Linked DNA regions of Homo sapiens. The protein of the gene in region 4 interacts with the protein of the main gene of each other region in a biochemical or structural test. Each region holds a gene or a part of one and is shown on either strand. Other genes may lie near its edges.

Region 1 (8,873 bases), on a different chromosome or scaffold from region 4:
GATGGGAAAATCACCACCTCCAAATGCTGTCAGCACTAACTGCAGACAGGGCTTCCTCCAATCGAGAATCTGCTCTTCTGTCTCTTCAGTTCTGCCTGCCAGGGCCTGTAGTCTGGGGACTTACCCCTCATCCACAGACAGGTCCTCCAACATTTTCCTTCCTTCCTTCCTTCCTTCCTTCCTTCCTTCCTTCCTTCCTTCCTTCCTTCTTTCCTTCCTTCCTTTCTTTCTTTCTGTCTCTCTCTCTCTCCTTTCTCTCTCTCTCTCTCTCTTTCTTTCTTTTTCTTTCTTTTTAAATATTCATTTATTTTTTAAATAGAGACGGGGGCCTTCCTATGTTGCCCAGGCTGGTCTCAAACTCCTGGGCTCAAGCAATCTGCCCATGTGGGCCTCCCAAAGTGCTAGGATTACAGGCATGAGTCACTGCACCTGGCCCCATTTACTTTTCTCTTTAGGTTTAACTCAAATGTCACTTCTGCTGGGAAGCCTTCCTGGATTTCTCAAGGCTCCTTCTGGCCACCCCCAACCGAGTCCTGTCTGCTTCTTTCATCATTGCACATCTATTTACACATTAGCTGCCCCTCCACTAGACAAAACATGGTGTAAGTAGTGAGAGGGAGTATTAAACCTTAGCAATGTGCACTAATTACAAGGATCCATGAGCCCAAATTAGCAGACTCTGAATAAGAGAATAGATTATTTTAAAAATGCCCATTCCCACGGTCCTTTTATTTGATGCTTTTTTTCCCCCCAGATATTACATTGCTAGAAGCTCTCACTGGCCCTAGGAGGTACTTCAGGCAGGGCTGTTTCTCCCCATTTTGCAGCCAGGGAAATGGAGAACCAGTGAGCTGAAGAGCCTGGTCTGGGACCCCCAGCTGACCCCAAGTCACATGTAGGGCCATTTGCCTGGGCCCTGGGCTCCAGGTTCAAAGAGCTGGAAGCAGCCTGTTTGGGAGCGAGCCTGGGGCCAGCCGATCTTGGCAGGGGGCTTTGCCAAACCAAAGTCCAGGGGGCTGGCTTGGGGAGCAGATAAGACCACACGAAGCTGTTTGTTGTTTGCATGCAGAAGGCTGCCAAGGGTTTTCAAAAACAAGCTGTCCTCCACTGGGTGACTGTGTCCCCTCCCACACAGGGCACATTTGCCCTCATGCCGGGGCCTCGGCAGACACACAGAGCGGGATCGACCTCTAAACCAGTGCTTCTTGGCCCTGGCGACCCCACCGTCACCTGGGAAGCCTGAAAAGTCTGTGTCCAGGTCCCTCTCCAACCAAAGCAAGCAGGGATTCTTGGGTGGGAAGTCTAATAGATAGCCAGGTTGAAAACCCCTGTTCCTACTTAAGGACGGAAAACAATAATTAAAAAAATATTTAAAAAGAGGCAGTGGCTCATGCCTGTAATCCAAGCACTTTGGGAGGCGGAGGTGGGAGGATCACTTGAGCCCAGGAATTCAGACCAGCCTGGACAACACAGCGAGACCCTGTCTCAATTTAAAAAAAATAAAAAAGGTAAAAAAATAAAAATAAAAAAGGAAAATAAAAGAAAAGGAAACCTCTGTTCCAAACCATCTTCAGTTCTGAAATCAGGAAAAAAAAAAAAAAAAATCCCTGATACTATTTCTGGGGGATGGGGAAGAATTATCCCTGGGTTAATTTCTCATGCTCACTTTTGAAACAGCCTGGGAGCTGTGCGGCTTGTCCCCTCCTCCTGCTCCCCCACCCCCGCAACAGGGTTCCTTCCTTGGAGCCGCTGAACTTGCATAAGTGACACCCTCCTCCTTGAGGGAGAAGCCAGGCTCCCCCAGGACAGCCAGGTGAGTGGCAGTGAGCATGTGACTGAGCGCTCCACTCCCTGTGTTGGCTCCCCGACCTCTGCAGACTTCAGTAGCACTTCTGTGCAAAACCCCACACGAGCTCATCAGTTCACACACCCCTTATTTGGACCTAGCAAGTCCAGCCACCTGGGACAGAGCTGAGATTGATCTCTGCAAAGTGTGAGGCCAGCTGGGCGTTTAGCGGTGTCACTGAGGACACAAGGAGAGAGCTGATTCTGCCTAGGGCATGCCTGCTTTAAGGACTCAGCCCCAAGCCTTCCCCTCCCCAAATGTTGCCTGCTAGCTCACTCCTAACCCCCTTGCCCCTTGACCTGGGGCAGAGAGCTGGCTGATACTAACCCCCGGGGACTGCCTTAGCCTGCCGGAGCCTCAGCTTCCTTGTTTGTCAAGTGATGATAATAATTTCTAATTCTCAAGGTTCCTTGATGATGAACTGCCACCCTATAGGTGGTGGCCCCATCTGGGAAGAAGGGTGGCTGGGTGTTTGGGGGCTACACCTGGGGAGGAGGCTGAGACGGACCCGGGGCTGCTGCTTTCAGGCCCTGGCTCGTTGCCCCTGCTGGGGCCCGCCTGTGGGTACCCATGTCCCTTGGCCTCATCCAGGTCCAGCAGCGGACCCTGCACAGGAAGCTGTTCAATCTCACGGAAACAGCTGCAGCTCCTGCCCAGGCCCTTGACTCCACCCCGTGGCCCTCCCGCCCCCCACTCAGCGTTTGGTTCTCATGGCAAGGAGGACTCCCGAGGAAACCAGACTCCACCCAGACCCCCCTACCAAATGCCCTCCTTTTTCCCATGCCCGGGAGCCTCTTCTGTCCTCCCCCGTTGGCCGCGGCATAGCAGCCCCACAGGGCACACCCTCAAACCCCATAACCAACTGTGCCTGGGTTGGGGCACATAGCAGATGGCCCAGCAGTGCCCCAGGATCCACTCCAGCCTCTGTCTCAGCCACACTGCCTCTGCCAGGAGACAGACACCTTCTCCAGCCCGCCTTTCCATGCTTGCGTGCCACATCGCACACACATTCACACACACAGATGTACACACTCCATAACACACACAGTGACAGTCCACACCAGTGTCACACCTGGATGCCAGATCGCCCATGTCTACATGTGTACATGTCTACATGTCTGTCAGGTGGCAGACTTTTGCACACACTAAGGAGCAGCTTCATATACCTCCTCCAAACATACGCATACACCTGCCTAAGGATGAACCTGTGAGCAGACATATGTACCCCTCCAGAAATCCCTTTCCCTGTTCAGTGACACAGCCGGGCATCTGAACACATGCACACCTGTGCATGCACACATACACACACGAGCACACAGCACGCTCATTCCTGTGTGCATGCACACACACACACACACACAAATGCATACCAGGAGTCCCTGCCTGCCTCAGCAGGGAGAACACAGCAGCAGCTTCCCAACCTGCAAACCCATCCTCAGCGGAGCCCTGACCTTCCTGACGGGGGGATCCCGGCTTCCCAGGGGTCAAGGAACCTGCTGAGGTCACACAGCTCACTGCGGTTGAGCTGGTATCAAGCCCAGGTTCCCTGTCCCCAGGGCTGGTGTGCACCCCAGCTGTGTCCACAGGTGTGCAGACTGTGGTGTCTCCAGACCCAGGGGTTCCCGCTGGGCCCTCCCCCAGGATGCTCTGATCCCCCTACAGGGCGGGCACCCGGGCACCTGAGCAGGGGCCCCCTCAGCCCTCGCAGGGCAGCAAAGCCTGGATGCTGGGCTGGGACTATTCTGAGTCGAGGGTGTCTCTTTGACAGGTTCCTCCTGGGCACGGGGCTGGCTCCTGGGAGGGGCAGTTCCGAGGACCCAGTGGCTGAGGGGCTCCCACCTGGGACCCCTTGCAGTTCCCAGGGACGAAGGTCTCCCCCTTGAGCGTCTAGTCACCTGGCCCAAAGGGCCCGCAGCTGTGGGCAGCGCTGGGGACAGGGGCGAGGGGTCCTTACCTCCAGGCCGAGAGGGGTGGAGGATGGACAGCAGGAGCAGGAGGACTCCGGGCCGCGGGGCCGCCGCCGTCAGACCCGCCATCTCGGGGAGAAATGCCCCAGCCCGCTCTCCGCACCTCGTTTTATCCCCAAAGCCTAATTGTTGCCTCGTCGGCTGTGAGGGAAAGAGGGAGGGAGAGAGGGCGGGCGGGAGGGCGGGAGAGGGGGGAGGCCTGGGGGAGGGGGCCGCGGGGAGGGGACAATTACGAAAGGCCCGGCTCACAAGCCTCCCAGGCCCGGGCTGCTGGACTGCGAGCTTTTTTCCTTGACACACACACGCACACACATGCACACAAGCACACACTCACACACACACACTTTCCCCCATCTCTTTCCCGCTTTCCCTCTGCGACTGTTCTTTCGCTGCTGGCCCTGTTCCCGCCAGAAAGAGCGAGGGGGGCCTCTGCCAGGACAGCCCTCGGGAGAGGAAGCAGAAGGGAGGGCCTGGCGGCCAGGCCAAAAATCCCAGCCCCAGCCAAGGCCCGAGTGGCCAGGCCCCCGCCCCTCCGGCTGGGCCCCGGGCCCAGTGTGAGGATACGGGCCAGCTGTCCCGCGCCTCAGCCCCCACCCCGGCCCTCCAGACTCCCCAACACCCCCAGGTCTGGCTAGAGACAGGTTCTGCCCAAAGCTGGGGAGGGGAGGCATTGGGCAGGTCTGGGGGTTTGGGGGGTGCGATGTCTACAGAGGCCGGGGGGCTGCAGGTTGAATGGCCTGGAAGGTAGGCCCGGGTTGGTATTGCTCTGGGAGGGATCTGGGGGGAAGGTAGGGGACCCTGGACAGGGCTGCATTCTGCAGGGGCCAAGGTCTCTGCCTAGCGCCTGAAGCTGGGGAGGAGGTGTTGGGTGGGTCTGGGGTGGATGCCTGCAGATGCCAGGGGGTTAGAGGCAGGGGAATGGCTTGGGAGTTAAGGCCATGTTGGTGCTGTCCCCAGGGGCATCTGGAGCACATGGAGGATCCCGACACACAGGGTTCTATTCTGCATGGGTCAAGGTCACAGCCCTATACCCAGCCCCATGCAGGCCGCAGGGTCTGGTAAAAATCAGGCTGGATCCCCAGGTGCCCTGTGGGGGAACAGGGAGGTGGGAGCCCCCCGCAGACTGACAGGCAGCCCAGCTTCCCATTATCACTGGGTCACCTCCCATCCCCACGCTGAGCACAGCTAGCGCCCACACCAGTCTGGGAGCTTCTCGACTGCTGTTCTCCCGGCCCCTCTGGGAAGGCTGACATTCCGCTGGTGGCCAGGAGGGGGCGGCCTGCACTGAAACAGCTGGGACCACGTTCCTGGAGAACTCTGCATTTCTGCCCCCAGGACTGAGCTGGACGGGGACCCTGGGGGATTTTGGGGGTTGGAGTGTGGGATGGAACAGGGGAGGGTCGTGTCCCCCACCCCTCACTTCCCACTACTGCTAGAGGAGAAGAAATGTGAGACCTAGAGAATAGGAGAGGGAAACTTGTTCCTTGTCCTAGGTCACAGCCAGTCAGGGAACAGCATGGAAGCCACACGCCCTGTGGGCTTTTCCCTGCACCACGATGGCTCCGAGGGATGAGTTAAAGACCCCTTGTGGAGGCAGGAGCACTGTGGCAGTCTGGAGTGCCAGCAGGGGTGGCTCAGCGTGGAAAGGTCAAATGCAGGCATTGGTCAAAGGCAGGTATTGGTGGACCTAGAAGTAAATTTCTGGCTCTAGCCTTTCTGGTAGGAAAACCTCTCCACAGAGCATCAGTTTCCTTATCTGTCTACAGGTGATCAGTATTCCTAGCTAAGAGATTATTGCAAAGACAAATACAACGTGGTCTTGTATTTCTGCTAGATCAAAAATGCTCTGTGTTCAGCTGGTGCTAGGACTGGTGTCAATACCACAGTTGCCGTCACTCGCTCTGCAAGTACTCTGCTTCTAGGACAGCTATCAGGCTTTGGTCTATACGGGGCCACCCCAGGACCCTGGACAAACCCTTCCTTTTCCCTGGGTCTTTGGAGGGAGCAGCTCTGGAATTTTGGAAGGTAGGGGCATGCTGGGAGAATTGTCTTGAAGATGTACGCACACAGCCAGTGTACAGCTCTTACTTACGGTGTGTGTTTATTTGGGGGTGCTTTGAGGGTAGCTGATGGAGATTATGCTGGGGTGAAAGCCCCCCCAAGCCACCCTTTGTTGGTGGGGTTAGGGGCTGCTCAGGGGCAGGGTCTGAAGCTCGATGCCCAGGATGTGCCTGCTGCAGGGGAGGGGAAGTCAATGGTATATCTGCGTGCCTCCGCCTGCCTGGGAAGGAGGAAGGCAGGGGCTACTGTGGGGAGCTGGACCCCTCTCTTCTCGAGGCAGTGACACGGGCAGGAACCAGCTTTCAGACTTGCAAACCGCAGTCTGCACAGAGTCTTTATTAATTCCAGGACGGGGAGAGAGTCCGGAGCCAGGGGGAGAGAGTTTGCAGTGGGGGGATCCAGGAGGGGTGTGGAGGGGCACTCACAGGAATAGACTTGAGGTGGCTGGAACAGACCTCTCCCCTGAGGCCGGGGGCCCTGTGTCCTGCCCCCAGCCTGTGCGCTGCTTCTGCTTAGCAGCCTCTGCTCATTGCAGGAGCTCCACGAACATAACATGCAACAAGATTGCAAAAGGGGGCCTCAATTCACAATCAAATCCATTGCACTGAATATCCATGCCGTGTAGTCTGATGCATAAGATACATAATGTAAGAACTAGAGATGACAGTCATCGGCCACCATCCATTCATTCATTCATTTACTTGTTCATTCAAGACCCCATCAGTACTCAAATGCTTAGTGTCACCTCCTTGCCTAGCTGTATGACTAAATAAGGTCATACATGCAGAATTGCCCACAGAGGGCTACCGGGTGCACCTGGCTGCCTGGTGATCGTTGGTCTTGCCGTTATCATTGACAAGCCTTTCCCGCTTGTTGCCTGGCTCAGTGCCACCAAGGGGCAACCAGATGAGTCACCCACAGGGCATCTCTATCTTCCAGCTCCTCTGGGTGCACCCATTTTGGTAGGACAGAGTTCCCAGTCTCTGGATGGCTCTGAGAACATCGTGCTTTGCTCAGACACCCTCCGTCGCTATCCAGACAAAGTTCAGATTTTTTTTTTGAGACGGAGTCTCGTTCTGTCACCCAGGCTGGAGTGCAGTGGCGTGATCTCCGCTCACTAAAATTTCTGCCTCCCAGGTTCAAGCAATTCTCCTGCCTCAGCCCCCGAGTAGCTGGGATTACAGGCATCCGCCACCACTGCCAGCTAATTTTTGTATTTTTAGTAAAGACCGGATTTCACCATGTTGGCCAGGCTGGTCTCAAACTCCTGAGCTCAGGTGATCCGCCCGCCTCGGCCTCCCAAAATGCTGGGATTACAGGTGTGAGCTACCGCATCCAGCCCCTCCTATGATCTTAAATTTACTAGTAGCCATATGAAATAAAAGAAAACATAAGTAAAACTATTCTTAGTAATATATTTAACACAACATATCTAAAGTATAATCCTTTCAACATCCAATCAAAATAAAAGTTATTGAGATATCTTGCATTCTTTTTTGTACCAGGTCTTAAAACTGGTGTGTATTTTGCATCGAGGGTACGTCTCAATCTGGACTTGTCACATTTCAAGTGCTCCATTAGCCACATGTGGCCAGCAGCTGCCACCGGGGACAGCACTGGTTTAGATCATAAAGGACTGGTGAGATGAGCTAGCCTTAGTTCTTTTTTGGTGGTTTGTTTTCTTTTTTGAGAGGGAGTCTTTCTCTGTCACCCAGGCTGGAGTGCAGTGGCACGATCTTGGCTCACTGCAACCTCCGCCTCCCGGGTTCAAGCAATTCTCCTGCCTCAGCCTCCTGAGTAGCTGGGATTACAGGCACGCGCCACCACGCCTGGCTAATTTTTGTATTTTTAGTAGAGACGGGGTTTCTCCGTTTTGGCCAGGCTGATCTTGAACTCCTGACCTCAGGTGATCCTCCCGCCTCGACTTCCCTAAGTGCTGGGATTACAGGCGTGAACCACCATGCCCAGCCAGAGCTAGCCTTAGTTCTGATGCGCTTGGAAGGGAATCTGAATCCTGCTATGCAGAGGTTCAAAATGGGACGGGGCTTGAGGACAGGGGAGAGGGACAGAGAAGGAAGGATGTCCTTGGAGGCTGGCAAAGGGCACCCGTGACAAGCAGCCCCAAAGGAGTGGCCCTGCCCTCGTGCTGGTGACTGAGCCAGAGAGGGCGGCTACCTCCTGTGGGGTGCCCGGCAGCATCGGCCCAGAGCCAGCACCTCAGCTGGAAAATGAAAGGGACTTCTGCAGTTCCTCTCTTCCCAGAGGCCACCAGGGACCCCTCGGATGGCCGGCCAGGAAAGGAAGGGGTCTGGCGCAGGCACAGGTGTCAGAGGTAAAGGGACTGCAACCGAAAATAGATCGAATGCCCATGGGTCTGGGCCATTTGCTGGGTGTCCCTTCATCACACAGAGCCAGCTCAAAAGAAGGACAGGCTGTGCTTCGAGGGGGTGCGTTGGACGTTGTGGGAGGGAGGCTGAAATTCTGGAACTCGGTGCTTCTGCAACCCCCCAGGCTGGGAGTGGGTTCGGAAGGGTCAGCAGTCGTTGTTGTGGTTGTGATGGGGACTGATGTTGATTAGTGTATGAGTTTGGCCAGATTATCTAATAATAATGAAGGATGGTGACATCAACAGTAATTGACCCCTAGAATCCCTGGTTTCGTCCTATGAAGACAGGATCTTCATAACCATTTAAGAGTACAAACATATCTGTAAGAATTTGGTATACAGCAAGTGCTCAAACATGGGAGGGGGTCCATGACACCATTTCAGGCCACTGATCATGGCTGGGTGGAGGGGTAGGCATAGCAGAAAGCCCCATCCCTGTGAGTGCTGCCCCCTGCAACCTCCGGGCCATGCCGTGTTTCCTCTTAGCCCCGGGCGTTTGTGTGTCTGAGTCATTTGTCAGTCTGGATCTTTGGCCAGTGTGAGCCGGGGGTGGGGAGGTGGGTGTCCCGGACGGGCTGTTCTGCCCTGTGCTGTTCCTACAGTGCCTCACGGG
Region 2 (4,787 bases), on a different chromosome or scaffold from region 4:
GGGCCTGGAAAACCTGGACTTATGCTGTTGTCAGTGGTGGTCACTGAGAGTCAGGAGGTGTGAGTTCCAGTCCCAGCTCAGCTATTTTACGTGCTGCTGGTGGTTCTCCCTTCCCTGGGCCTTGGTCTCCTCATCTGCATAATGGGATTATGCTGGCAACCACTTCACAGGTTGGTGCTGAGGACTCAAAAGTCCAGCACACAGGCAGGGGATCACCATGCTGGAGGGAAGGTACTTCCAAGTAATAAGAGGAATAAAGTGCGGGGTGAAGGCAACACTGAAAACTTGAAACCCCAGGACCGGAGGAGGGTGAAATAAAAACCTGTTTGGCAAAGACAGGCTCAAACCCCCATGAGCTGTCTGGCTGTCTGAGGGCTGGCTGCTGGAATCTCCCCAAAACCATCCCTCGGGGCTCCTTTCTGAGCTTCTCCAGAGCAGAATTGAGGTGTGGAGGAGCATGACGGCCTCAGGTCAGCACACTGTACCATGCACACAGGACGTATGTTTCTTTGGTTTTATTATTACAAACACACCATGGCTCTGTCACAATAGGGAAATCTAAGCTCTACATACCATTTCTTTTCTACCTGGACAGGGCCCCATAAAAGCCTCCAAGCCACGTGTAGATGTGAGACACATTTGACAGAACATTTCAACTCATAGCTTATAATGATGCCATTTCTCCAGCTGTGCAAGGGCTTTACAAAAACTGTGCCAGGACTTCCCATGAGGCTGGATTGCTTGATTCATGTTTTATGAGCCCCACAATACTGAAGCTCCTTTTCCAGGGACTTGGCATAGGCAGTCAATTCCACATTTGGGATAGGTCCTCTCTGGAAGTGAATGTCAGGCAGTGACATCCAAGTTTCTGCATGCAGTGGGTTAACAGCCATGTTTAGGGGGAACATGATTTAAAAAGTACATCTCTCTCCCTCCTCCCCCACATGCACAAGGCTCACATCTCATTATGGTGCGGCCCATGTACATTAAAGTGTGATACTTGGTTTTGAAAACATTCAAACAGTCTCTGTGGAAATCTGAGAGAAATTGGCGGAGAGCTGCCGTGGTGCATTCCTCCTGTAGTGCTTCAAGCTAATGCTTCATCCTCTCTAATAACTTTTGATAGACAGGGGCTGAAAAAGAGAAGTTGGTAACGTCAAATAGGTGCAGATCTCCCCATGTCTGTCTAGGACACTGTCAGAATCTCAAGGACCAGGGCCAAGCAGCCTCCTTCTGCCATGCTCTCCTGCACATAGCAGGTGCTTTGTGGTTTGTGAAACTTCACTCTTTACTCAAGGCCCGATGTTCTGGTTTTCTGTACCTATCAACTTGGAACTAGATCCTCACCATGGGTTCCTGCCAAGCCCTTTGCAATATTCCCAGACTTCCTAAGCTGAAAACTCACCTTAACCCTAAAAGGTTGTTACTCTTATTATCCTCATCTTACAGAGAAGGAAATGGGGTGCTCTGGGTCTGACCCCAAGTCACCCTGCTGTTCTGACTCCAAAGGCCAGGCTTCTTTTACTGCACCATGATGTTCTTATCTATATACAGCAGATGGCAGGCTTGGGCTTGCTTGGGGGTAAGGCCTAAACAGGTCTGCAATGACTTCAAACCCAGACCAGACTCACCTAGTCGCACAGACCTCTGGGAAGCCTGAAAGAAAACACAAGGTGTCAGGTTTTCTAGTGAAAGTTATACCTGCAACTGCTTATGACAATGGCTTTGCCCATTGCCACCCCTACTCAGAAAAAATGCTGGGGCGAGGAAGAGGAAGGGGAAGGTGGAACTTATAGGCACCAGGGAGTTCCTCAGGTGGCCTTGGCAGACATAAGTTGTGCAAGCCCCTATCAAGTGTGCCTTCAGGTGGACATTCCTAGGAGACCCCCAAGCCAGGCTTTCCCACTGAGACTACAGCCTAGAGTTGAGGGAGCTGGGGCTGCACAGAGGTGGCCTCAGGAGTAGAAGCTCAGGGCCAAGAATCCTTCTCGAGGGCACTAAGGAGACCCCTGTGTACAAAAGTAAAGTGACACAGTAAGCTCCAGGCCTCTGGGTTTAGGATGGCTCCCTGCAGCCTCTCCTCTTGAAGTGCAATCTTTCTGTAAGGCACTTCACATTCCCAAGAGGCTCCACCTGACCCGAAGTAGCAAAAGAGCCAAGTGGGGCACTGAGCACTGGGCAAGCTGGGGAGCAGGAAAGGAAGCTCAGAAAGAGCCAGAGAGGGTTTGAGAGGGAGGTGGGGCTGGGGCAAGGAAGGGATGGCTCCACACACATAGCGAGCCCAGTATCCCTGTATCCAGAATACATACAGTGCCCAGGAGAGCCCCAGCCTCACCCAGGATGGGCAATGCCATGGACAGCAGAAGAGTGACCCAGAGGCCCCGGCTCAGGGCAGGCCTGGCCACTGTAAGATGAACTTGGGATGGGCTGCCCTCTTGGGCAGATGGCTTCCAGAGCTATGTCTGTTCTCTCCAGCAGTGACTTCCCCATGATCTGAGGCTCAGAGGCCTCGGTGTGAAAGCCTGCGCTTTGGCCCATGAAAGCCAGGGAGTTGCCTTGGTTCTTTACTCTGAATTTGACACAGGCTGGGGCTGAGGATGCCTCAGTGGGAGTGGGGAGAAGTTTTAAGAGAGCCCTGGGGAGCAGCCAAGGAAGACAGGGGCTGGAGAGGCTCCTCTATGGCCCAAACAGAGGACCTGAGGCTGCTCAGGCTAGGCGCAAACCTAGCAGGCATCTTACCCTGGAAAACGCTGATGCTTGTTTGAAGATCTCAAGCGCAGAGTCTGCAAGTTCATCCCCTCTTTCCTGAGGTCTGTTGGCTGAAGAGGAAAGAAAAGGCAGGTTTGACCAGAGTGAAACCATTAGCATGTCATTCATAACAACCGTGACTGAGGGGCACTGGTGGGCTTTCTGGCTCACATTTCCAAAGACATGTTTTCTCCATAATGTTTCATAACTCATGGTAGAACTTGGCCCATGGGGAGAGAGCACCAAGAAAGGTGAATGCACACATGAGGAGAGGCAGGACTGAGGTTCAACTGCACTGGAGGCAAGGAACATACACTGAGGTGAGATGCTGTAAGAGGAGTGCTGGGAATCGCGCGGACAGCATCCACGCGAATACAGAAAACTGGGCTGTGTCCGAGGGGAGCTAATATAGCTGGGCAACTCCGCAAAGAGCAATGTGTCCTCACATTCCTTAGTGTGGTGCATTCAAAACCAACAGCTCCCAATTCACTCTGCAATCAGTCACATAGGCACAGTTTAACTATCACAATTACATGTTATTCTCATCATTGTTTAGAACAGTTTTTCTTCTCTCCACCAACTGCCACATGAAGAAAAGGACTGGCTGCAGAGTCAGTGGGGATGCGACACTTACCTGGAGGCTGCAGAACATTGGTGATGACATGGACCACGCCATTTGTGGCCATGATGTCAGGCTCGGCAACAGGCTCCTTGTTGACACTCACCACATTGTTTTTCTAAAAGAAAAACAGAGTAGTGGTTGAAAGTAGAGCATTTATTTATACATTTATATATTTATTTTATTCATTCAGCAAGTGTTTACTGAACAGTTTTCGTTTTTTTCCTTGTTCTTTGTTTTTGAGATGGAGTTTCAATCTTGTCGCCCAGGCTGGAGTGCAGTGGCATGATCTCGACTCACTGCAACCTCCGCCTCCTGGGTTCAAGTGATTCTCCTGCCTCAGCCTCCAGAGTAGCTGTGATTACAGGCATGTGCCACCACGCCCAGCTAATTTTGTATTTTTAGTAGAGATGTGGTTTCACCACGTTGGCCAGGCTGGACTTGAACTCCTGACCTCAGATGATCCGCCCACTTTGGCCTCCCAAAGTGCTGGGATTACAGGCATGAGCCACTGCACCCGGCCTACTGAACACTTTTCATATGCCAAGTCCTGTGTTAGACTGGGGATACTCTGGTGAATGAAACAGTCCCTGCCCTTGACAGACCTTCAGTGTGGTGGATTAATTCAAATCTCCTGTGTGGATTTAGCACTTTGCAATTTACATAATGCTTTTTTGTGTGATCCACTCAGTCCTCACAGCAGTGTATGATAAGGAGAGTAGATATTATTGTCCCATTCCACAGAAGAGGAGACTGAGACTGAGACTGAAGACAGGCGAAGTGCCTCTTTTAAGCTAAGTAGGTGGAACAGCTGGAAATGGAAGACAGGCTTCCTGCTCTGGGCAAAAGGCTCTTTCCATTTTGCCTGGGTGCCTCACTTAAGATTTTCTCATAGGAGGCCCACCCAGGGCAAATCTATCTCAGGCCTTCCTGAAGGGCCATGTGACAAACTCAAGGGGGTAGGAGGCACAGAAGCCTGTGACAGACAGGACCCCAGCATCTGAAACCAGGTGCGAGGAGATTCTTGAATGACCTGCTAAAGTCAAACAAGTCATCCCCGTGCCTACCTCCCTACATGCATATCTTCCTATGCTCCTCGTGAGAAACTGGTGAGCAATGGATGGCTGAAGACCAAGAGAGAGGAGCAGAGAGTAGAAGCCAGCCACACACTGAAGAGCGGTCCCTCCACAGAGGGGTCAGTGGCCTCTGCAGGTGCAGCCAGGGAGATTTCTGGAGCTCGGCTGGCTATCTGCTTTAGGAACACTCTTAGTGCAGTTACAAAGTTATATCATCAATGTGCAGAGCAAGGGAAGGCTCACAGAGCAAGTGTCAGAACTCAAAAAGCCTCTTGGGATGGTCTGGTTCATGGTACAACTCAGTGAAGCCCTGGGTTTGGGGGGTGGGATGGTGTGAGTACAGA
Region 3 (7,000 bases), on a different chromosome or scaffold from region 4:
TGAGTTGGGGAGAGGTGGAAGGTGGAGTTTTCCTGCTCCTCCACCCCCCAGCCCTGCTCCCTGTTGGTTTCACACCCCTCCTTTAGATGTCCACTGCTCCCAGGCCTCTCTCCTCCCTTTTGCACAGCCTGGCTTGCCACGTACTCTTGCATTGGGCCACACTGGTAGAGCCATCAAAGTCTGTGCTTGTGTTTCCTGGACAGCGGCTGCAGAAGTTCTGACGGAAGTCGGGCTGATAGGAGCCCATGGCACAGCGAATACAGCGGTGGATGCTGGTGTTGTAGTAGTGCCCTGGGGAGCACTGGACTGTAGGCAAGGGAGAAGGGCAGGAATCAAGATGGTAGGCAGGTGGGAGTTACGGGGCATGGGATGGACAGGATACATTCATCCTGGAGAATCAGGAGATCAGATACATCAAAGTTCTTTTCTAGGGTCTCAATCTTTCCCAGTCATGCCAGAATTTAAGCCCACGGAAAAACAGAGTTTACAGAGTGGTTGGCTACAGTGCCAATCCTTTTCTTTCAGACGCTGAGCACAGTGCCAAACCTATATAGAAACTCATTTGGGATATGGAGGAGAATATGCCACCAGTTCTCCAAAGTGGAGGGGTAAGTGGGACTGTTAATTATTTCTCAGTTCCCAAGCTTGGGACTAGTGGAGGGGCAGGGTGGGTCCTGGAAGCAGGATGGTATGGTTGGTCAAGTAGCTGGGCCCATTACTGGTTTGGAGAAAATGGTGGGTCAGTGTCCCCTCTGGGAAATTGGAGAGTTTTTTGGGAGTAGTTGGGGTTGGGGCATCCCCCAGGGAGGTGAGTAGCTTACTCACCTTTGGTGTCACAGTCTTGGAAGGAAATGGCCCCTTCATGCTTGGTGGTGAGGCCCCCACCACAAGGGAAGCATAGGGTCCGTCCTGCTTCAGGTTGGTAGGTGCCACGTGGGCATGGCTGACAGGGCTTGAACCCATCTACAGAGTGTTGGCCAGGTGGGCACTGACCTGCAATGAATCAAGGGCCCAACTCTGATGGGGATGGTCCTGAGTCATCCCCATGGGGTCACCCGATCTCAGGGGACAAAGGTATACAAACAGGATGTTGACTAAGAGAGTGGCCTGGAGCCTGGGCCTGCCCTTTGGGAAATCCCATGCCCATGGGCATCCCAGTGCCCACCCTACCCCACTCTGTATTGTTTGTTCCCCTGGCACCTGCACACGTGGTGACGTTGGTGGCTCCAAGAGGCCCGTGGGCATCACTCCCAGGGCAAAGGTCGCAGGAGAGCTGCCCTTCTCTCTCCTGGAAGGTGCCCGCTGGGCATGGCACACACTGCTCCGTCTGGCCGTGGTAATACGTTCCCTGCGGGCAGCTGACTGAGGGAGAGTCGGCCGCGCTAGCCACCCACCCCCGCATTTCCCACCACCCAGGCCTGGGACTCCCCTTCCCACTCCCCGCCACAACCCCCGATTCAGGGAGAATCTCTGTCAGGGAACAAACACAATCCTACTTGGGGGGATAGGAGGGTCAAAACCGTGTGCAGGAGGATTGCTGGCCCCACCTGGCATCCTTCTAGATTTCAGCCTGGAACCAAGGAAGGGAGGACAGCGGGCAGGAGCATCCTGGCTGCCTCATAATTTGAGAAATGCATCTGAGGCCACAAAGGGTCCTGCTCTGAGTCAGGCCCAAACTGGGTCTTTCCTACATCCCTGCTCCCCAGTAAGCTCCCTTACCACACTTGGTCCCAGCACGGTGCTGCCCGGGCCTACAGGACTCCATCGGCTCTGCTCGCTCCCCGGCTACCAGGCCCGGCTTGTGGGCCAGCTCATAATCAAGGCCTGCCAGGCGCAGCAGGAAGCGGTCCTGGTTGATGGACTTTCTGAGCATCTTCAGGGATCCTTTCAGCCGCCGTTCCATTCGCTGTCGGAGGCAGGGCAGCCCACAGCTGGCTGGTGGTGGATGGCCGTGTGTATCAGGGAGGAGAAAGAGTTGCTGTGAGCAGGAGGGCAGGGGAGCAAAGCTGGGAGCTAGGAGGGGCATGGTAAGAGGGACTAGCTTTTAGGCTTGGCACCAGGCAGGGTCTGCCCCTAGTACAGGCTCCATCCCTTCCTTTTGCTGCTGAGACCTGTGGTTTCCCCACCTCTGCCCTCCCCTTCCAGTCCTCTTCCCAACAGTGCCCCCAGTCCCACCTGTGGTTTCTTCGGCTCTGACCTCTGCCTCCAGTTCCAGGGTGAGCCTTGTGACCTCTTTGCCTGGAGGGGTCCGGGCCCGTCGGCCCTTGCCCTTCCGAGAGGAGTCACACTTAAGGTGGATGAAGGTGACCTGGCATTCAGAGCAGGGGGCACCACCTGGGAGAGAGGGCTTGTCAACCCCAGGGACATCCCCTGGAAAGTTCTCACTCCCAGCCCAGACAGACCTCCCCAGATCTCTAACTGTAACTATCTCTCAATCCTGTTTTAGTCTAGGGTCCTAATTAGTTGGTGGAGGGGAATATTCTGGGACTTCCTTGGGTGCTATGCCTACAGCTGCTTTTTCCTCTGCTCTGCCTAGAGTTCAGGGTTCTGGTGGGTTTTTGGAAGCAGAGGAGCTGAGGGGTAAGGAGGATTTAGTGGCCAGACAGCCAACTGGAATGGGGTCCCCAGTCCAAACCTGGCCCTGTGATTCTGCCAGCCTCCTCTGTTTTGCCTTTGTTTCGCAGGTGCAAACGGCATTTGGCATCCTTGATCTTGAAGGAGGCCCGTTGTTTAATGGACAGCACTGCAGCCTCTAGAGGGATGGTAGAAACTCAGCACAGTATGGGATGCCCATGGAGGTCGGGGGTGCCGTAGGGGTTGTTGAGAAGCTGGGTAATAAGCCAGGGGCTTGGCTGGGGGAGTGAGATTATGAAAGTCAAGGGGATCAGATGTTAGGGCAGAGGGAGTGAGGGAGCAGGGTTGGAGAATTACAGGGCAAAAAAGAGGATCCAGGAGAAAGGAAGGCCAGGGGATTGATGAAGAACAAAAATAAGGGATTAATGTAAGAGAGTAGGGTGGGAACAGGGCTTCTGGGCTGGTGCTTACCATGGCAGTGGTTGGAGTTGGTGCTGTTCCCATTGTGGCCAGCTCGGGCTGGAGCAGCCCTGGGGCTGGGGGTCCCACAGCTCACCGTGAAGCCATTCTCAGACTCTGAGAAAAGGAGCCTGTCACAGTTCTGACCTGCCTTCCCAACCCCCGCTGGCTGGAGGAATCCAGGGGGAATGAAGGAGCTGCCTGAACGGCCAGTCCTTCCTCTTTTCTCCTCCAAAGCTCTCCAGCACCCTCCTCCCATGTACCTGGCAAAAATCGGGCCCTGGAGGGACAGGTCAGGGCACAGGTGTCCTTCTTGCCAGACCGGTTGCAGCTGAGCATGGCTTTCGAGGCCCCAGGACTGCCCTGACACTTCAGTGGCTCTAGGAAGGGGAGAGAGGCCTGAGCAAATGAATGCATTCCTTTCCCTCAGTTGGGTAATTTGGAGGAATCAGCTACTTGCATAACTATTGTTGTACCCATGGAGACTGATGATGGGATTGTTTACTACAAATTTCATGTCTTTAACTCAAAATGGCTACATTCTCCACCCTTTCCACCTCACACCTTTCCCCAATGTGATACTCTATGCTTTCCAGAACCCCAACTGCTCCCTGAAATGGCAGTGTCATCTTTGGCCAGCAGAGGGCACTGCCCACCTGTGCAATCTTTGCCATTCCAGTGCAGCCGACCCTGGCCTGCTGGGCAGGTACACTGGTAGCTGCCAGGAGTGTTGATGCAGCCAAAGCGGCAACCTCCCCGGTTGATGCTGCATTCATCCACATCTGGGGGAAGGAGTAGGGAGACAGAAAAACAACGATGGAGTTGGAGGAGGAGCCGGAGAGTAGGCAGTGAGTGAGGGCCTTTGGTTAGAGTTTCAGGTACCCTGCATTACGCAAGATGAATAAGTTCGAGAGATCTACTGTACAACAGTGTGCCTATAGGCACATAAATACTGTAGTGTACACTTAAAAACTTAAGAGGGTAGATCTCTTGTTAAATATTCTTACAATTTAAAAAAGTTAAAAAGGCATTCTAGGCACTGTAAGATGACTACTGGCCTGAGAAGAGCTCAAACCTCCTCCAATTATCTCTGTCCCCAAAGGAATGATCGAGAAGGGGCCAAGCCAACAAGCTTTTTAAAGCCTTCCACTCCTCCCAACCAGTGAGACTGTCATTTGGGAGCTGAGAGTGGGGGTTCAGGGACAGTTATAGGAATGGGAGATAGGAATTTTGGAGGCAGGATGCTGTTTCCGCAGTCTCCCAGTTCTTCAAAAGCTGTCTTAATTCCTCCTATTTTGTCACAGCGGATGCAGACATGGTGCATGCATCCAGGGATTGCCCATAGCCACAAGCCAACACAAGGACCTGTTCAATTGGAGGGTGAAGAGGTGAGGGGGCCAGGGTGGCTGGGGGTGCAAGCTTACTAGCTTACCCCCACAGTGGGTGATACCATACAACAGGTAGCCACGATGGCAGAGACACTGGAAGCTTCCTGGTGTGTTGACACATATGTGGTCACAGGTTCGATCAAAGGAACACTCGTCTATATCTGGAAGAGCAAAGATTCAAGCCACTGAATCTGTCTTGGAGCACTTGACCCTTGCTCAGGTGAAGGACCCAAGTGAGGGGCCTTGGCTTTCCCCCTTGAACTGAAGAGTTCCTATTCATGTCCTAGCTCTAGGACCAGTGATTTAACAATGCCATTCCATCTTCTCTGCCCCCTCTATTTGAAGTCCTTGGAATTAGGAACTGCAAGATCTGGTGCCTTTAGGTCAGGGCCCACCATGTGTGGTTAGGTACGTCCTACTCTGCCAAGGATATGAATTGGGGTGAAATCCATCCCTCAGTCCTTGCCAGGCTGAATGCTTTGATATGGAGCTAGTCCGCTGAGGGGAAAGAGTACCATTTGCTAATTTGCAGGATGACACTGCCTCTAGAGACTCTGTGTGATATCTATTGAGTTTCTAAGACTTTAGCCCTCTGGCCTCCTTGAAGCTCTCCCACAAGAACCTCTCCTAAGGCTTTCACCTTTGGCTGAGTCTGCTCACCCTGGCAGTTCCTCTCATTGATGAGAAGCTTATAGCCTTTCTTGCAACTGCATTCGAAGCTGCCCACTGTGTTGCGGCAAATATGGTCACAGCCCCCGTTGTTTAAGCGGCACTCATCTATATCTGAAGAAGGAGGACAAAACAGGATAAAAGATACTATCAAAGGCTGAGAACAAACAAGGAGAAAGATCCCTCCCTCACTGACAGAGACATGCAAAAATCAAGGAGTCCTGGGCCTGCCTCTTCTTGATCTCTCTCTGTCTCTTTCTCTTTCTCTTTCCTGTCTCTCTCTCTCTTTCCTGTCTCTGTTTCTTCCCTGTTCAGGGGATCTGTGGCCATTAGTAACACCCTCTCTTCTGGGATTGAGTGTTCTTATAAGGGGACAAATTGGAACCAAAACTAGGAACAGGCCCTCAGGGAATTACCTAGAGGAGGGGCAGGTGGGCATTTGACCTAACAGGCTAGCCCTTAGTCTCCAGCTGATGGCCATTCCCTGAAAGGTTGGTGGGTAAGGGTTATCTCTTTCCTGTCCCTCAGGACGGGGGGTTGGGGGGGTGCGGGGCAAGGAGAGGTGGAGGGTCTAAAGGGACTCACTGAAAACGGGCAGCCCTTTAGGGAGGAGGAGGAGCTGGGAAAGAGGCCAGGCAGGGAGGACCTCCAGGAGAGCCAGTGAGGCTGGGTAGCTGATGGGGGAGGGCTGGGGGCCAGGCAAGGGGCTGGACTGGGAGAGATCTGGAGAGACTCAGGCCTGAGGCAGCTTTCAGCACTAGTAAGGGAAAGGGGGGCTGGTGAATGGCTTCCTTCCTGAGGTCAAGTTCCCCAAGCTGGTGGCAGACAGGACCCAGGCTACTCACCCCTGGTTGGGGGAAGGGGCAGGGAGGGCAGCCTTTCACTTCACTCTTAGCATACCTGTCAACAGTTCTTCCCAGCAGGAAACCTCTCAACTCTGGCTGGCTGACCTGCTGCCCTAGCCTCCCCCCTCCTCTCGCAGCTGTTGGGCCAAAAGACACAAAGAACGAGCCCAGTCCTCCTCGTCCCCACTCCTTGTGACCAGGGGATATGGACCTAATGAATCATCATTTTCAGTATGGCTACCCTGCCTTTTTCCTCCACCCTTTCCCCCCATTCTCCCTCAGACCTGGCTAATTAAAAGGAAGGGAAACAGAATGCATAATGTGGGTAACTATACTGTAATAACAGTTAACACAAAGTGTTTCCATTTGCCAAGCACTGTTCTAAGTACTTTTTATGTAATCACTCTTTTAATCACAACACAGTATGAGGCGAGCACTATGGAAAACTGAGGCACAGAGACATTAAGTGACTTGTCCAGGATCACAGAGCTAGTAGGAGACAGGGCTGGGATCTGAACCCAGCTTCAGTCCTCCTAACTAGTATCCTACTCTCCCTTTGACCAGTACAGCCTTTCGAGGGGTAGACATCATTTCCCCAGAGCCCACTGGGAAGGTCTGAGGAATGTGGGGTAAGAAGGTTATGGAACACACCTGTGACCTCATGCACACACACAGTCAGGGCTCAAATATCCTTCCAGACCCAGGAGCAAATGTGAATCGCATGTCCATTAACTAAGAGGGTTAGGGACCCATGGGGGATAGGAATGAGAGTAGGGAAACAAGGTGGGGTAGGGGAAGGGGGCACTAAGGAACTGGCTGGACTTCTCTGTCCCTTGAACTGAGATGAAACAGGCAGATAGGAGACAACCCTTAGCTATGTCCTGGGTTCTTCATAAGAAGGAGGTTGAGGAGGTGTCATCCCCTAATAGGCACCCTATCTCTGGTCCCAACCTCAGCCCCTTACCAAAGGTCACTCTGCTTCTGTCCTCTCAAAGTCCTTACCTTTGCACGTCTTCCTGTCTGGCTGCAGCATGAAGCCCACAGGGCAGGTGCAGTGGACACCAG
Region 4 (6,891 bases):
GAGATGCTATTTAAGGCTGTGGGCTACCAGACATCACAGGGAATGAGTATACACAGAGCAGAGGATTCCCACGATTGAGCACAAGGGTGCCTCTGTCACCAGAAGAGGAAAATCCACCCAGTGAGGTAGGAGGAGACCCAGAAGTAAGGTTCCAGAGGCCGAGAGTTTCAGGAAGAAGGGCAGGATCCACTGTGTCAATGTGGGGAGAGTTGGTGTGGGATGAGCAGAGAGGAGCTCCTGTCACATCTGGCTACAAGAAGGTCATAAATGGCTTTGAAGAGGGTGACTTTGGTGGTGTAGTGGGGTGGGAGCCAGGCTGGAAATGGCTGAGGAGAGAATGGGAATTGAGGAAGTGGAGACAGTGAGTAGAGACCATGCTTTTGGGAAGTTTTATTGTGAATAGGGATAGGAAGGTAGAGAAATAGACTAGTATCTAGTGGGAGGCAGGGGTTAAGACAGATTGTAAACAAGCCATGGCGGGGAATGTTTGTACGCCAAGTGGGAGTGGGTCATTTGAGCAAGAAACAGATGAAAGAGGAAGCTCAGGAGGGCAGTTTTCTGGACTCCTACTTAAATTCCCACGTGGGCCCTGATCAAACCCATCATCTCCACTCACGGGCCCCAATCTTTCAGTCAAGTCCCTTTGCTAACCTGTAAGGTCAAATTCATATTCAGCTTGGCATTCAGGACTTCTCTCATCTAGCCCAAACTAGCACTGCTATCTTAACCATTCTGGAATCCTCTCCATTCCCTCTTAGCCACCTGCTACTACCCCATGCTGGAGTTCTGAGCCATTTGAAGTTCTCCAGACACCCACTGCTTTTTCTCTTCTTTTTCTCTTCGTGCACTTGCACCAAGAACCCACATTCAAATCCCACTCTTATCACTCACTAGCTATGAGACTTTGGGTGAGTTGTATAACTCTCTGTGCCTTAGTTTCCTTATCTGTAAAACAAGGGATTGGTGATGGCAGTAATAATAGTACATACAAAGTAATAGGAGTACCTATCTCCTCTGGTTGTTTTGTCACACAAAATGCACATAGAACAGTGCCTGGCACATAGTGCTGTACCGTGGATAGCTACTAACGTCAGGTATATGATCCATATTTTATTTATCCACTGACTTACTCCTGGGCAGCTAGGTTATTGCCAGTTTTTCACTAACAAACAATGCTGCAATCAACATCCTTCTATGTGTTGTCTTGTGCACACATGTGAGGGTCAGAAAGTAGTTACATTTTTAGGTTTAGTGGTTCTTGGTAAATTACCCTGTAAGAAGATTGTCCCTTGCACAGGAAGAAGCTCGTTCATCCTTTCTGATTCAGTTCCGGTTCAGATGTCATCTTGACTGAGAAACGTTCCTGGACCTCAACCACAACACAGACACACACACATGTGCACACACACACACCATTATTGTAGAATAAAAGATCATGCACTGCACACTCCCCAAGTGTGATCCCACCGCCACCAGCCATAGAATCACCCTTGTAAATAGGTCAGACTCTCTGGAGGTGGAGCCTGGAGTTGCATTTTAAGCAAGTTCCAAGGGGAATCTTATGCATTCTAAAGTCTAACTCATTTCTCTATCCCCATTGCCCAGTACAGGGCCTGGCTCCATGTAGGGGCTCAATAAATGTTTGATGAATGAATAAACAGGTTGATCATTTCCTTGACTGTAAAATAGAAATAATCACATCATACTTTCCTAACAGGAATGATTGAATATGTTAACATTTACAAAGTGCCTAGAACACTATTTTTTTTTTTTTTGAGACGGAGTCTTGCTCAGTCACCCAGGCTGGAGTGCAGTGGCGTGATCTCGGCTCACTGCAAGCTCCACCTCCCAGGCTGGAGTGCAGTGGCGTGATCTCGGCTCACTGCAAGCTCCACCTCCCAGGTTCAAGCCATTCTCCTGCCTCAGCCTCCCAAGTAGCTGGGACTACAGGCGCCCGCCACCACGCCCGGCTAATTTTTTCTATTTTTTTTTTAGTAGAGACAGGGTTTCATCGTGTTAGCCAGGGTGGTCTCAATCTCCTGACCTCGTGATCCGCCTGCCTCGGCCTCCCAAAGTGCTAGGAGTGAGCTACCGTGCCCGGCCTAGAACACTTTCTGGCACGTAGAAAGCACTCTATCAGTTATTTGTTTTTCCTTTTTTTTTTTTTTTTTGCACTCTATCAGTTAAATACATACATGCATACATACGTGCATACATATATAAATAAAGTCTGCTTCTAAAGGTTAGAGAATCCAAGTTTATTAGAAACACTCCAACAAAAAACAAAGGTGAGAAGAGAGGGCCCAGCCCACCTCCACTCCTCCCTTTCCTCCAGAACAGAATACCAGTTTGTATCCGGCAAACTGGCTCCTTCCCCAGGGTTGGTCCCAGTGGGGATTTACATGGCACTGCCAAAGCAGGACGGGAGCCCTAGTCCTCAGGGCACTGCAGGATGTCATAGGTCACGTAGCCCACTTGGTCCACCTGGTTCAACTCACTCCGGGAACTCACGCGCCAGTAGAAGCGGTCCTGGCAGAAATAGGCTTTCTCTGCAGGAGACAGGCAGGCATAAGAGGAGTGATTCTAATTCTCCCACATATACAGAAATAGGAACAAGATCTTGACAACCATCTCTTCTGCCATTTCTAGAACTTTCTAAGGTTTTCACATATCACCTCCATCCCCCCAACCTGTGAGATGCTGTGAGGTTCTGTGAGATGCTGGAGGGCACAGACCTCAGTGCCCAAAGCACTGCCACAGAGCCTAGCACACAGTAGGTACACCATACACATTTTGTGAATGAATTAACAAATGAATAGACCAACTATCTTAATGCTCAGAACAATTCATTCAACGCTCATTCATTGAACAAATCTGTTCATTCATCATTTACTGAGCATCTACTATGTGCTTTGTTCAAGATACTGGGGATAAGCAGAAAAAATGCAGGCATGATCTCAATTATCTTGGTGCTTACACTCTAGTGAGGCAAGAGACAATTAAGCAAACACATAAATAAATGAGATTGGTTTTGAAAATATAGAAAGCGGCTGGGTGCGGTGGCTCATGCCTGTAATCCCAGCACTTTGGGAGGCTGAGGCGGGTGGATCACGAGGTCAGGAGTTCAAGACCAGCCTGGCCAAGATGGTGAAACCCCGTCTCTACTAAAAAATACAAAAAATTAGCCAAGCGTGGTGGCAGGCACCTGTAATCCCAGCTACTTGGGAGGCTGAGGCAGGAGAATCGCTTGAACCCGGGAGGCGGAGGTTGCAGTGAGCTGAGATCGTGCCACTGCACTCCAGCCTGGGCGACAGAGCAAGACTCCATCTCAAAAAAAAAAAAAAAGAAAAAAGAAAAAAAAAGAAAATATAGAAAGCTATGGAGAAAATAAAAACAAGTAAATAGATAATAAGCATCAAAGAAGGCCTCATTGAAGCAATGGCCTTAGCACTGAAACCTGAAGGAAGACAGTGGGATGGCCCAGTGACAATCTGGAGGGGAAGCTTTCCAGACAGAGGGAACAACTGGCACAAAGGCTGTAAGCTAGGAATGACCTTGATCTGTTCAAAGAGCAGCCAGTGTGGGTGGAGCAGAGTAAATAACAGGAGGAGTGGGAAGAGATGAGAACACGGGGGTGGAGTGTCAGATCCTCTTAATTTCTTTGACCTTGGAATTCATCTGGGGTCACTCCCAAGACCATTGCCCTTCACTCCTACCCCCTCTCTAATCTCATGGAATTTGTTAAAGGTCCTGGACAGCCAGTATGGTTTGGGCTGGGGTGTTTATAAAGAAGATGGCAAAAAAAATGACAGACTCGAAAAAGATTTTGGTGGCAGGAAATCTTGTTCACCTTGTCAACTGTTTGGATGTGACTGGTAAGAAAGGGAAGTCAAGTGTAATTCCAGCTATAGTCCCCATATTACAGATGGGGAAACTGAGGCTCGAAGAGTAGAGAAGCAGTGACTTGCCCAAAGTCACAGAGCTGTGAATTGTCTTATCTCTCCCTGTAGCACAGTGCCTGGCACATTATCGGCACTTGATGACTGTTGTCTAATAACTGAGCTTCCATACAAACCACCTGCCGTCCTGTACTGAAGGAGAAAGAGCTTCCAGCCGGGGAGGCAGGAAATCTGGGTCCTGGTCTTGGTTGCATCCCTGACTTCCTAAATGACCTGGAGAAGGCCTCTGCCTCTGCTGGGATCTTGTCTGTGCTGGGGCATTTGTTTCCATTTCCAAGGGCTTTTTCTTCCTCGCTCAGAATTTGACCACTCACTAAGAGGAGCTTAGTGTGGTGTCTCACGAAGGGATCCTCCTCAGCCCTCACCTCGGTACTGGAAGACGTCGTGCGTGTCCAAAGGCACCCCGGGGAACATCCGGTCCACCTCGCTGGCGCTCCGGGGATCCACCATCTGCGCCTTCACGTCGAACCTGCGGGCAGGCGCGGAGGAGACAGGTGCTGAGCCGGCTAGCGGACGGACCGACGGCGCCCGGGCTCCCCCTGCCGGCGGCCGCGGCGGCGCTCACCTCCAGAGGCGCCGCCCGCTGAACAGCAGCATCTTCCCCCTGCCACTCCGGAGGGCCCCGGTCACCTGGGCCACGTCGGCTCCCAGGCCCAGCTTGTCCAGACGCCTCGGGCCCAGCACCGACGCGCCTGTGTACACCCACACCTGGCGCCCTGCAGGGGAGGAGGGTCACGTCGGTTTGGGGGCGCAGAGGGAGCACGTACTCCTAGAACGCGAGGAGGGAGATTCCGGCGAGGCCTTTCCTAGCCCGCGTGCCCGCAGTCCCTGCAACCCAGGGGCAGAGGCGCTGGGTAGAGCGACGCGAGGGCGTGGAGAGGAGGGGGCAGAAACTCAGCCGCCCCTACGTTTGCTAAACTGCGTCCGCCAGGGGGCGTATTTTTCTAAAACGCACAAGACGTTTCGTGGGTTATCGATGGTCTCTTGAGCCTCCTTGACTGATGGGGATTGACCGGGCGGGGGAGGGAAAGTAGGTAACTAACCAGAGAAGAAGAAAAGCTTCTTGGAGAGCCGCTCCTCAAAGACCGAGTCCAGCTTGCGGGGCAGCGCGGGCCACTTGTCGGCGATAAGGAAGGGGCCCTGCGGCCGGCTCCCCCTGCCCTCAGAGAATCGCCAGTACTTCCTGAGAAAGCGAGGAGGGAAAGGACGGGCTCTAAGCCTTGGACACAGGGCCAGTGGGCGGGAAGGGACGGGCAGCCCCTCCGCAAAGCCCCCTCCCGCATCCACACAACCCCGCCTCCTCACCCATCCTTGAACAAATACAGCTGGTTCCCAATCTCCGCGATGGCGTCGAAGATGTTCACGTTGCAGGCATCGTCCACCGGACTCAAAGGCACAGTAGTGGCCGTAGAAGGGCCAGCAGTGGGGGGACCTGTGGGGCCAGCTGAGGGGGGACCTGTGGGGCCAGCTGTGGGGCGCTCTGAGGGGTGGACAGTGGGGGGTCCGGTGGGGCAGACCGTCGGGGGAGCCGTGGGCTGCGGTGTGGTGGTGGTTGGAGGCCGTGGCTCAGGTTCAGGGCGAGGACCTAAAAAGAGACACGGGGTGAGACTCTTCCTATTCCTGCATACCTCTGTACCCCTAGAACATCTGCTCCCCTAAGCTTCTCAGTGAAGCCTCCTCTGGCACACAGGCCCCTCCTCACTCAGCCTCCCTTCCCAAACCACAGGACTTTCTTCTTCTTCTTTTTCGTTTTAAGCGACATCCTCTATGGCCCAGGATGGAATGCAGTGGTGCAATCATAGCTCACTACAGCCTCGAACTCCTGGGCTCAAGAGATCCTCCCACCTCAGCCTCCAGAGTAGCTAGGACTACAGACATGTGCCTTCACGCCTTGCTCATTTATTTTTTGTAGAGATGGGAGTCTGGCTATGTTGCCGAGGCTGGTCTGGAACTCCTGGGCTTAAGCAATCCTCCCGCCTTGGGTCTCCCAAAGCCCTGGGATTAGAGGCGTGAGCCACCATGCCCAGAGTAGACTGGCTTTTGAAGTCACACCTATCTCTCTCTAGAGTCTCTTTATCACCACCTCTAAGCACTGACATGGCAGCGACTGGGCCCAGGCTCTGCTTCCAGACAGACGTTGAGGTCCCACCTCTCCTGCACGCCCCGTTCCTCCCCCGATCCCCAACCCCCAATTCTTTGGTACTGTGGCACAGCCACGCCCTTTCCCCTCCTCCTCCCATCCCTGCCCCTGCCTCACCATAGAGGTGCCGGATGCCATTCACGTCGTCCTTATGCAAGGGGGGCCCCTCAGTGAAGCGGTACATAGGGTACATGAGCGCCTCCGGCACTGAGGAATGATCTAAGCCCAGCGCGTGGCCGAACTCATGCGCCGCCACGAGGAACAAACTGTATCCTGGAGGGAGAGGGAGCCTGAGACGTGAGCGCCGGGCCGAGCCCCCAGCCCTGGCCACCCCACCACCACCACTGCCGGGAACCCCAGCCCCGGAGCCGCGGGACCACGCCTACCTTGGTCCGGGCAGAAGCCCCACTTCTTGTCGCTGTCAAAGTTCGAGGTGGTAGCGCACCAGAGGCGCCCATCTCCGCGGCCCTCGCTGGTACAGGTCGAGTACTCCTTACCCAGGAAAGTGAAGGGGAAGACGCACAGCTCCCCCGCCGAGTTGCCCCCCATCACCGTCGAGTCAGCTGGAGAGACCCAAGGCCTTGGATGAGCCAGATGGATGAGTCCAATAAGGAGTCAGGGGCCGACCCGACAGGGAGCTAAACAATCTTGGTGGCCTAGGGGGCGCTGTAGAGCACTCCTGAGAAGAGGCTAGACCCGTGGGCGGTGCCTGGGACACCAGACCAAGGAAGAGGCGGCCAGCTGGGCAGAAAAGGCCGAACCTTAGTGGCTGGGGCGGGGCCATTGGAAGTC

Evidence for each region.
Region 1: of the proteins of MMP9 (region 4) and ELN, one has a biochemical effect on the other in vitro, tested with the Homo sapiens proteins (one study listed by IntAct).
Region 2: the proteins of MMP9 (region 4) and TGFBI form a complex in vitro, tested with the Homo sapiens proteins (one study listed by BioGRID).
Region 3: of the proteins of MMP9 (region 4) and SCUBE3, one has a biochemical effect on the other in vitro, tested with the Homo sapiens proteins (one study listed by IntAct).

What each region holds. Positions count from the first base shown.
Region 1 is NC_000007.14:74,023,197-74,032,069, reverse strand, and holds the start of ELN (elastin isoform a precursor), read right to left. Parts: upstream 3,898-8,873; 5' UTR 3,883-3,897; coding exon 3,801-3,882; intron 1-3,800. UniProt on the Homo sapiens protein: Major structural protein of tissues such as aorta and nuchal ligament, which must expand rapidly and recover completely.
Region 2 is NC_000005.10:136,059,532-136,064,318, reverse strand, and holds the end of TGFBI (transforming growth factor-beta-induced protein ig-h3 precursor), read right to left. Parts: intron 3,486-4,787; coding exon 3,383-3,485; intron 2,820-3,382; coding exon 2,740-2,819; intron 1,657-2,739; coding exon 1,632-1,656; intron 1,134-1,631; coding exon 1,093-1,133; 3' UTR 501-1,092; downstream 1-500.
Region 3 is NC_000006.12:35,237,956-35,244,955, reverse strand, and holds part of SCUBE3 (signal peptide, CUB and EGF-like domain-containing protein 3 isoform 1 precursor), read right to left. Parts: coding exon 6,938-7,000; intron 6,249-6,937; exon of another isoform or gene 5,205-6,248; coding exon 5,082-5,204; exon of another isoform or gene 4,583-5,081; coding exon 4,466-4,582; exon of another isoform or gene 3,816-4,465; coding exon 3,690-3,815; exon of another isoform or gene 3,414-3,689; coding exon 3,297-3,413; exon of another isoform or gene 3,151-3,296; coding exon 3,046-3,150; exon of another isoform or gene 2,753-3,045; coding exon 2,636-2,752; exon of another isoform or gene 2,335-2,635; coding exon 2,176-2,334; exon of another isoform or gene 1,936-2,175; coding exon 1,720-1,935; exon of another isoform or gene 1,363-1,719; coding exon 1,201-1,362; exon of another isoform or gene 994-1,200; coding exon 826-993; exon of another isoform or gene 526-825; intron 307-525; coding exon 145-306; intron 1-144. UniProt on the Homo sapiens protein: Is a positive regulator of the BMP signaling pathway, required for proper chondrogenesis, osteogenesis and skeletal development. It acts as a coreceptor for BMP ligands, particularly BMP2 and BMP4, facilitating their interactions with BMP type I receptors.
Region 4 is NC_000020.11:46,011,908-46,018,798, reverse strand, and holds the end of MMP9 (matrix metalloproteinase-9 preproprotein), read right to left. Parts: intron 6,663-6,891; coding exon 6,486-6,662; intron 6,373-6,485; coding exon 6,217-6,372; intron 5,545-6,216; coding exon 5,265-5,544; exon of another isoform or gene 5,143-5,264; coding exon 5,003-5,142; exon of another isoform or gene 4,676-5,002; coding exon 4,525-4,675; exon of another isoform or gene 4,429-4,524; coding exon 4,325-4,428; exon of another isoform or gene 4,011-4,324; intron 2,550-4,010; coding exon 2,431-2,549; 3' UTR 2,238-2,430; downstream 1-2,237. UniProt on the Homo sapiens protein: Matrix metalloproteinase that plays an essential role in local proteolysis of the extracellular matrix and in leukocyte migration. Could play a role in bone osteoclastic resorption. Cleaves KiSS1 at a Gly-|-Leu bond.